Homo sapiens: one gene and its partner. The protein of the gene in region 2 purifies or fractionates together with the protein of the main gene of each other region. This does not show direct contact. Each region holds a gene or a part of one and is shown on either strand. Other genes may lie near its edges.

What was found.
Region 1: the proteins of CSPG4 (region 2) and NEDD9 purify together in Homo sapiens (co-immunoprecipitation; one study listed by IntAct). This does not show direct contact.

The regions. Positions count from the first base shown.
Region 1 is NC_000006.12:11,225,851-11,229,668, reverse strand, and holds part of NEDD9 (enhancer of filamentation 1), read left to right. Parts: intron 1-3,818. UniProt on the Homo sapiens protein: Scaffolding protein which plays a central coordinating role for tyrosine-kinase-based signaling related to cell adhesion. As a focal adhesion protein, plays a role in embryonic fibroblast migration.
Region 2 is NC_000015.10:75,685,349-75,689,166, reverse strand, and holds part of CSPG4 (chondroitin sulfate proteoglycan 4 precursor), read left to right. Parts: coding exon 1-1,891; intron 1,892-3,465; coding exon 3,466-3,818. UniProt on the Homo sapiens protein: Proteoglycan playing a role in cell proliferation and migration which stimulates endothelial cells motility during microvascular morphogenesis. May also inhibit neurite outgrowth and growth cone collapse during axon regeneration.

The DNA of each region.
Region 1 (3,818 bases), on a different chromosome or scaffold from region 2:
TAGTAAATTACGGGGGCTTCATTTATTAAGAATTTTCTACAAAATCCCCTTCATATACAGAGCATGTTCTTAATTGGGCGGGGGCTGGCGGGGTTAGGTGATTGCCTCGATGGCCTTGGTTTGCTTACCCAGTGAAGGCTCCCTCCTGAGGGTCTGGAGGTGTATGGTTGTGCTGTTTCCCAGGAGGGTGATGGAAGGGTCTCTGCGCAGCTGTGTTTGAGCAGAAGCCCCCGAGACCCCACCCCGTTTGTGCCTGCCAGGCCCGAGGCCCCGCCCACCTCAGGCCCAGCCCGGGCGGGGGCTCAGCGGCCCCTTGGCCTGGCTGCTAATGGCTGAGCAGAGACGCTTTTGTGGCTTTGCCAAATTTCTGAGCCCTTACGTGCCTACATTAAAATTCTAAATTATTTATCTCGTCTACCATGCAACAAATTCATTCTTTAACGTTTTGACTGAAGAAAAATTACAGACGGAACTTACAATGCCATTAAGAAAGGTGCATTCTGAAAGTCAGAGTCCTGTGTTCTGGTTGAATGGGGTAGGTCAGGGAAAGGAGAACCTGTGTGCCGTGAAACGCTTTGGAAAGGACTTTGAAAGTATTCGTATTTCCTCAAGCAAGACCGAGGAAAATAATGACAGAGGATCTTTAATTTAGTCAATATGGTCATGCATAAGCTATTAAATTCCCAATTATTTCCTTGCTTTGATATTTTGGTTTAAAATGCTTTATTTTTCTCTGTATGATTTTTGCAACCAATCCAAATGTAGGACTCCTGTCCTTTTCCTTTTTAAACCTTGTATGAGATCTATGGATTTAAAATCACTAAAACATGCTTTGAAAAATATCAACTTGGTTATTTATGTATTTATGCATTTATTTATTTATTTAGTAAACCCATTTGCAGAGCTAAATGGCTTACCTACACAGAGATAAAAGCCTTTAGAGTACTGAAGGTGCCTGATAATACCAAATTTAGCAAGTTGTACAGTGCGTAACATGCCAAGGATTCCTTTAGCATCCTTTCCTTGCTGGGATACACGTCAGTCCCTGTTCTCAGAATTCAGTGGTTCCCTGTCTCTCCCTTCACTCCAGTCTTCTGAAAAAAACACCTTCCTCTCCACTTTTCTTTTTTTCTTTTTTTGAGATCAAGTCTCACTCTGTCGCCCAGGCTGGAGTGCAGTGGTGCCACCTCAGCTCACTGCGACCTCTGCCTCCTGGGTTCAAGTGATTCTCCTGTCTCGGCCTCCTGAGTAGCTGGGATTACAGGTGCCCACCACCATGCCTGGATAAGTTTTGTATTTTTAGTAGAGATGGGTTTCACTGTGTTGGTCAGGCTGGTCTCGAACTCTTGACCTCAGGTGATCCACCTGCCTCAGCCTCCCAAAGTGCTGGGATTACAGGTGTGAGCCACCGCACCCGGCCTTTTTGCAAATTCTCTCCCACTTTCGTGCTTTTATGACCTCATTGGTTCTCCTTTTATCTTCTTCTTCTTCTTTTCAGGCTTTCCTTACGCTTCTTTAATACTGACTTCCGTAGATCTTACTTCCAACCCCCTACTCCCCAGCCCCCCACCCGCACCTATCTACTGCCGCCCCCTTGCCTCCCACACACAGATGTGACACTTTTAATGCACATTCTGTAGCCCTCATTTTTCCTTCTCCTTAGACTCTGCTATGGGAAATCTTGGTCCCTCACTGCCCCCATTCATCTGCCTCTCTGTTTGCGTTTACATGACTTGAGTGGCCTGTCAGTCCCGCTAGTAAAGTCTCCTCATCCATCCACTCTGTTTAAACAATCAAACTCTGAAACCTGTGTCTCCTGGACCATCCTATAATCCCTAAAATAGGCTGTTATGCTTTTCACCTCTGCCCTACTCTGTTAGCACTACCTTACTTATTGACCTCTTTCAATCAAATCGTTATCTAAAGGATACCTGTAACTCAGATAGGTTGCCTACTGGGCCTGTTTAGTTTTAAGTAAACCCCACTGAATATGAGAGACCCACCCTCTATTTGTATGTAGAGGCAGATTGATCGAAAAGTCCTTGAATAAAAAACATGATCTAGGGTCTGTGAAGTTTTGAGGGGGCCAAGACTTGGTGTTTTATGCTCTTGTGTTAGAGACATGATAGAGCATGGGCTTTGAAGAAAGGCATTTCTGTTCCTTATGGCTTATAGCTCTGGACCTTAGGCAAGTTAAGCTCTCTAAGCCTCATTTTACAGCATTGTCTGTAAAATAGGGATAAGAATAACTGCCTCATACTATTCGAAGACCTGGGATAATATATGAATGAAGTACTTACTATGGCTCTTGGCATATAGTAAGCAGACAATGCAAGCTGGCTCCAGCTCTCTTTGTATGGTAGATGCTCAATAGATGTTGAAAGGATGGTATGTACTCAAGACTTGGTGACAGAATTATGTCAAAATCCCAGTTACTAGGTTGAGATGGTTGAATATTGTTGAGTATTCTGTGGGCCTGGATGTGTATTGTAAGCATAGGGCCCTAACAGCATATGACCCCACTTGCTAATATACTAATGACTTGATTCCTTCATTATTGTTCATTGGACTCAGTATTCCTGAAATTACAAGACTTTGCTCATAGAAGACAAAATGTATACACAAATAGCCATTTAAGAGGATCTTAATACTATATGGCATAGTAAAAAAACAACAACAACAACAAAAAACATGGGCTTTGTTTCAGATCCCACTTTTGTTACTTTCTAACAGTATAGTTTTATGCTAGCTACTTTAAACCTTCTTTTCCTCATTTATCAAATGAGAATAATACCTGTCTTGTCAGATAGTTATAGGATATAATATATGACAATTGTCCTTTCTAGCAGATATTAGGCATTTAATAAATGGCAGCTATTATATGATGTTATATACACATACCCACAAAGATATACAGATATATAGATATGGAATTTTTATATAGATAAAAGTGTTTAAAGGAGACATTCACTAGAATTGTTTACCCATAACAGAAATATCAGTGAGGAAGAGAAAGTCGTCAATTCAAAAAACCAAAGATAAAATCCAAAGAATGTAAGTTGGGAGTACATGAGAAGTTCAGGGTGAACTCTCTTATCCAATTGCAGTCAATTAGAATGACATAAATGTAAAGTAAGAGGTCTTGGTTGTCTATGTTTAGATCATTTTAGGGTCAGAAAGAAATCTGAACAAATTGGTTTGAAATGCCAACCACTAGGACCAAGGCAATACTCTGCAAGAACATATAGGCTGAATTACCAGGACTTCTCGCCAAGACAAATGAAACAGGGCCATTGGGAAGAAATACTATATTTCTAACTTAAAATGCCAGAGAGTAACTGACGGTTTCCTAGGTGATAGATGGTTGCAAAGAGTACGGGCATGAAAAGGGGACACACACACACAAAAAAAAACCCTGTTTATACTTTGCCAACAACACCCCCCTCCATCTTATTTACTTTGAACATTCCAGCCATCTCTCTGCAGTAATTCCTGCTGGCTAATGAGGATTCCACACAGCTAGGGAACATGACAGCCTGCAAAGGATTATTTTCCTGAACAATCTGCATTTTAAGATAAGTCACCTTGTTGGTAACCTTTTGTACCCTTCATTGGAAAGGGTGACTCTCTTTGAAGACAGTTTGACCAAACAATGAGATCTAGGTGAATTTGAGGAAGATAGAACGGGCACTCCAGAAATATGGATAGTGGTGGAGCTGACAGCAGTTTTTCATGGTTGACGTAGGGAGTGGAGGCAGCTGTCATGGAGATATTAAAGTTGCCAGTGGAATGTTTTCCAATACATATTCCTGGGCCCC
Region 2 (3,818 bases):
TCCTGCACAGGACTTGACGTTCCGGGTCAGCGATGGACTGCAGGCCAGCCCCCCGGCCACGCTGAAGGTGGTGGCCATCCGGCCGGCCATACAGATCCACCGCAGCACAGGGTTGCGACTGGCCCAAGGCTCTGCCATGCCCATCTTGCCCGCCAACCTGTCGGTGGAGACCAATGCCGTGGGGCAGGATGTGAGCGTGCTGTTCCGCGTCACTGGGGCCCTGCAGTTTGGGGAGCTGCAGAAGCAGGGGGCAGGTGGGGTGGAGGGTGCTGAGTGGTGGGCCACACAGGCGTTCCACCAGCGGGATGTGGAGCAGGGCCGCGTGAGGTACCTGAGCACTGACCCACAGCACCACGCTTACGACACCGTGGAGAACCTGGCCCTGGAGGTGCAGGTGGGCCAGGAGATCCTGAGCAATCTGTCCTTCCCAGTGACCATCCAGAGAGCCACTGTGTGGATGCTGCGGCTGGAGCCACTGCACACTCAGAACACCCAGCAGGAGACCCTCACCACAGCCCACCTGGAGGCCACCCTGGAGGAGGCAGGCCCAAGCCCCCCAACCTTCCATTATGAGGTGGTTCAGGCTCCCAGGAAAGGCAACCTTCAACTACAGGGCACAAGGCTGTCAGATGGCCAGGGCTTCACCCAGGATGACATACAGGCTGGCCGGGTGACCTATGGGGCCACAGCACGTGCCTCAGAGGCAGTCGAGGACACCTTCCGTTTCCGTGTCACAGCTCCACCATATTTCTCCCCACTCTATACCTTCCCCATCCACATTGGTGGTGACCCAGATGCGCCTGTCCTCACCAATGTCCTCCTCGTGGTGCCTGAGGGTGGTGAGGGTGTCCTCTCTGCTGACCACCTCTTTGTCAAGAGTCTCAACAGTGCCAGCTACCTCTATGAGGTCATGGAGCGGCCCCGCCATGGGAGGTTGGCTTGGCGTGGGACACAGGACAAGACCACTATGGTGACATCCTTCACCAATGAAGACCTGTTGCGTGGCCGGCTGGTCTACCAGCATGATGACTCCGAGACCACAGAAGATGATATCCCATTTGTTGCTACCCGCCAGGGCGAGAGCAGTGGTGACATGGCCTGGGAGGAGGTACGGGGTGTCTTCCGAGTGGCCATCCAGCCCGTGAATGACCACGCCCCTGTGCAGACCATCAGCCGGATCTTCCATGTGGCCCGGGGTGGGCGGCGGCTGCTGACTACAGACGACGTGGCCTTCAGCGATGCTGACTCGGGCTTTGCTGACGCCCAGCTGGTGCTTACCCGCAAGGACCTCCTCTTTGGCAGTATCGTGGCCGTAGATGAGCCCACGCGGCCCATCTACCGCTTCACCCAGGAGGACCTCAGGAAGAGGCGAGTACTGTTCGTGCACTCAGGGGCTGACCGTGGCTGGATCCAGCTGCAGGTGTCCGACGGGCAACACCAGGCCACTGCGCTGCTGGAGGTGCAGGCCTCGGAACCCTACCTCCGTGTGGCCAACGGCTCCAGCCTTGTGGTCCCTCAAGGAGGCCAGGGCACCATCGACACGGCCGTGCTCCACCTGGACACCAACCTCGACATCCGCAGTGGGGATGAGGTCCACTACCACGTCACAGCTGGCCCTCGCTGGGGACAGCTAGTCCGGGCTGGTCAGCCAGCCACAGCCTTCTCCCAGCAGGACCTGCTGGATGGGGCCGTTCTCTATAGCCACAATGGCAGCCTCAGCCCCCGCGACACCATGGCCTTCTCCGTGGAAGCAGGGCCAGTGCACACGGATGCCACCCTACAAGTGACCATTGCCCTAGAGGGCCCACTGGCCCCACTGAAGCTGGTCCGGCACAAGAAGATCTACGTCTTCCAGGGAGAGGCAGCTGAGATCAGAAGGGACCAGCTGGAGGTGAGGAGTTGGAGGTGGTGAGCAGGGGTGTGGGCCAGGTAGAGGGCCTTCTCCCAGCCTCCATGCCAGGAACACACGTGACTTGGGCTGTGGCTGTGGTGGCTCCAGGTTACATGTGTGCACGTGCCTCAGATGTGCTCCCGTATATGTTGTGCTCCCAGGAGTTTCTGGGGAGCTTGCTATACACCCATCCTCCTGGGAGTTGTGTGCGCCTCCAGAGGTTGTGTCCACTCATGTGTATGACATGGCTGAGCATGCAGATTCCTGGACCCCACCCAGCCCTACAGAATCTCTGACGTGGAGCCCGAGAATCTCCATTGCAGTCAGTTCCCTGGGAGGACATCACGGGTCCTGAGCTTTGGGGATTGCTGACCGTGGAGACAGGCCGCTACTCCTCAGACCCTCATGTCCCCCACTCTTTTCTCAGAGCCCAGACCTGGGTGGCTTCTGCCCACCCAGGAACCCCACAGAGCAACCACGGGCCCTCCAGCAGGCTCACTGACTTGCCCTGTGACCTCAGGCCAGTCCTTGCCCGCTCTTGGCCTTACTCTCCTACACTGCTCATTTCGGAGACCCTTCTGGTCTGCATGTCTGGAGCTTGGGGCCGACAGCAAGCCAGCAGATCTGGAGTCAGGAAGGCCTCGCGGGAGGAGGCAGCGTTTGGGCCGGGCTCTGAAGAGCACAGGCCATCAGGAGCAGAGAATGGGGAGTGGTATTCCAGGCAGAAGGAACATTCCGGGCAAATGCATAGAACAGGAATGTGAGTTTGGGGGGTGGTTTGGCCTCTTGTGGCTGGCCCATCAGGTGAGGGAGCCCGTGTGGCCTTTGGGGCGTGAGCTCTGTAGGGCCTGAGCTGAAGGCGGCTGTGCCTCCAGGAGGGGTGGGGCGGGGCGCCCTCTGATGGTCCTGGGTGGTAATAGCAGGGGCTGGGGAGGTGCTGCCTGCAAACCAGCCACAGGCCTGAACGGATCCTGAGCAGGGGGGCCTGTGTGTGTGTGTGTGCACACACGCATGTGTACATGTGTGACTGCGTCAGCATATGATGAACTCGTGTGTCTGTGTCACTGAGTCTGGGGACATGTGATTATGCACCTCCCTGAGGGAGTGCATCTCAAGCTGTGTGACCGACCCCCTGCAACCGTGTGTGGGGTGGGCATTAACATGTGACCAGCAGCCGGGGCAACCCAGTGAAACCCCATCTCTACACAAAAAATTTAAAAATTAGCCGGGCCTGGTGGCACATGCCTGTGGTCCCAGCTACTTGGGAGGCTGAGGTAGGAGGATCCCTTGAGCCTGGGAAGTTGAGGCTTCAAGGAACTGTGATTGTACCACTGCACTCCAGCCTGGGTGACAGAGTGAGACCCTGTCTCAAAAAACAAAAAATGTGACCAGCTGCATGTCTGGCTGCTGTGTGTGTGAACCCACGTGTGTGTTTGTGTGTCTAAATGAGCAGTGGTATCTAGAGGAATAAGTGGGGCAAGATCAAGCCTGTTCCGGCTTCTTAGGGCCACAGTGGACCCCTCTGAGACCCCCTCTGTGGCCCCCTGTGAGTCCTTGTGACCTCTGTTAACCAGGCAGCCCAGGAGGCAGTGCCACCTGCAGACATCGTATTCTCAGTGAAGAGCCCACCGAGTGCCGGCTACCTGGTGATGGTGTCGCGTGGCGCCTTGGCAGATGAGCCACCCAGCCTGGACCCTGTGCAGAGCTTCTCCCAGGAGGCAGTGGACACAGGCAGGGTCCTGTACCTGCACTCCCGCCCTGAGGCCTGGAGCGATGCCTTCTCGCTGGATGTGGCCTCAGGCCTGGGTGCTCCCCTCGAGGGCGTCCTTGTGGAGCTGGAGGTGCTGCCCGCTGCCATCCCACTAGAGGCGCAAAACTTCAGCGTCCCTGAGGGTGGCAGCCTCACCCTGGCCCCTCCACTGCTCCG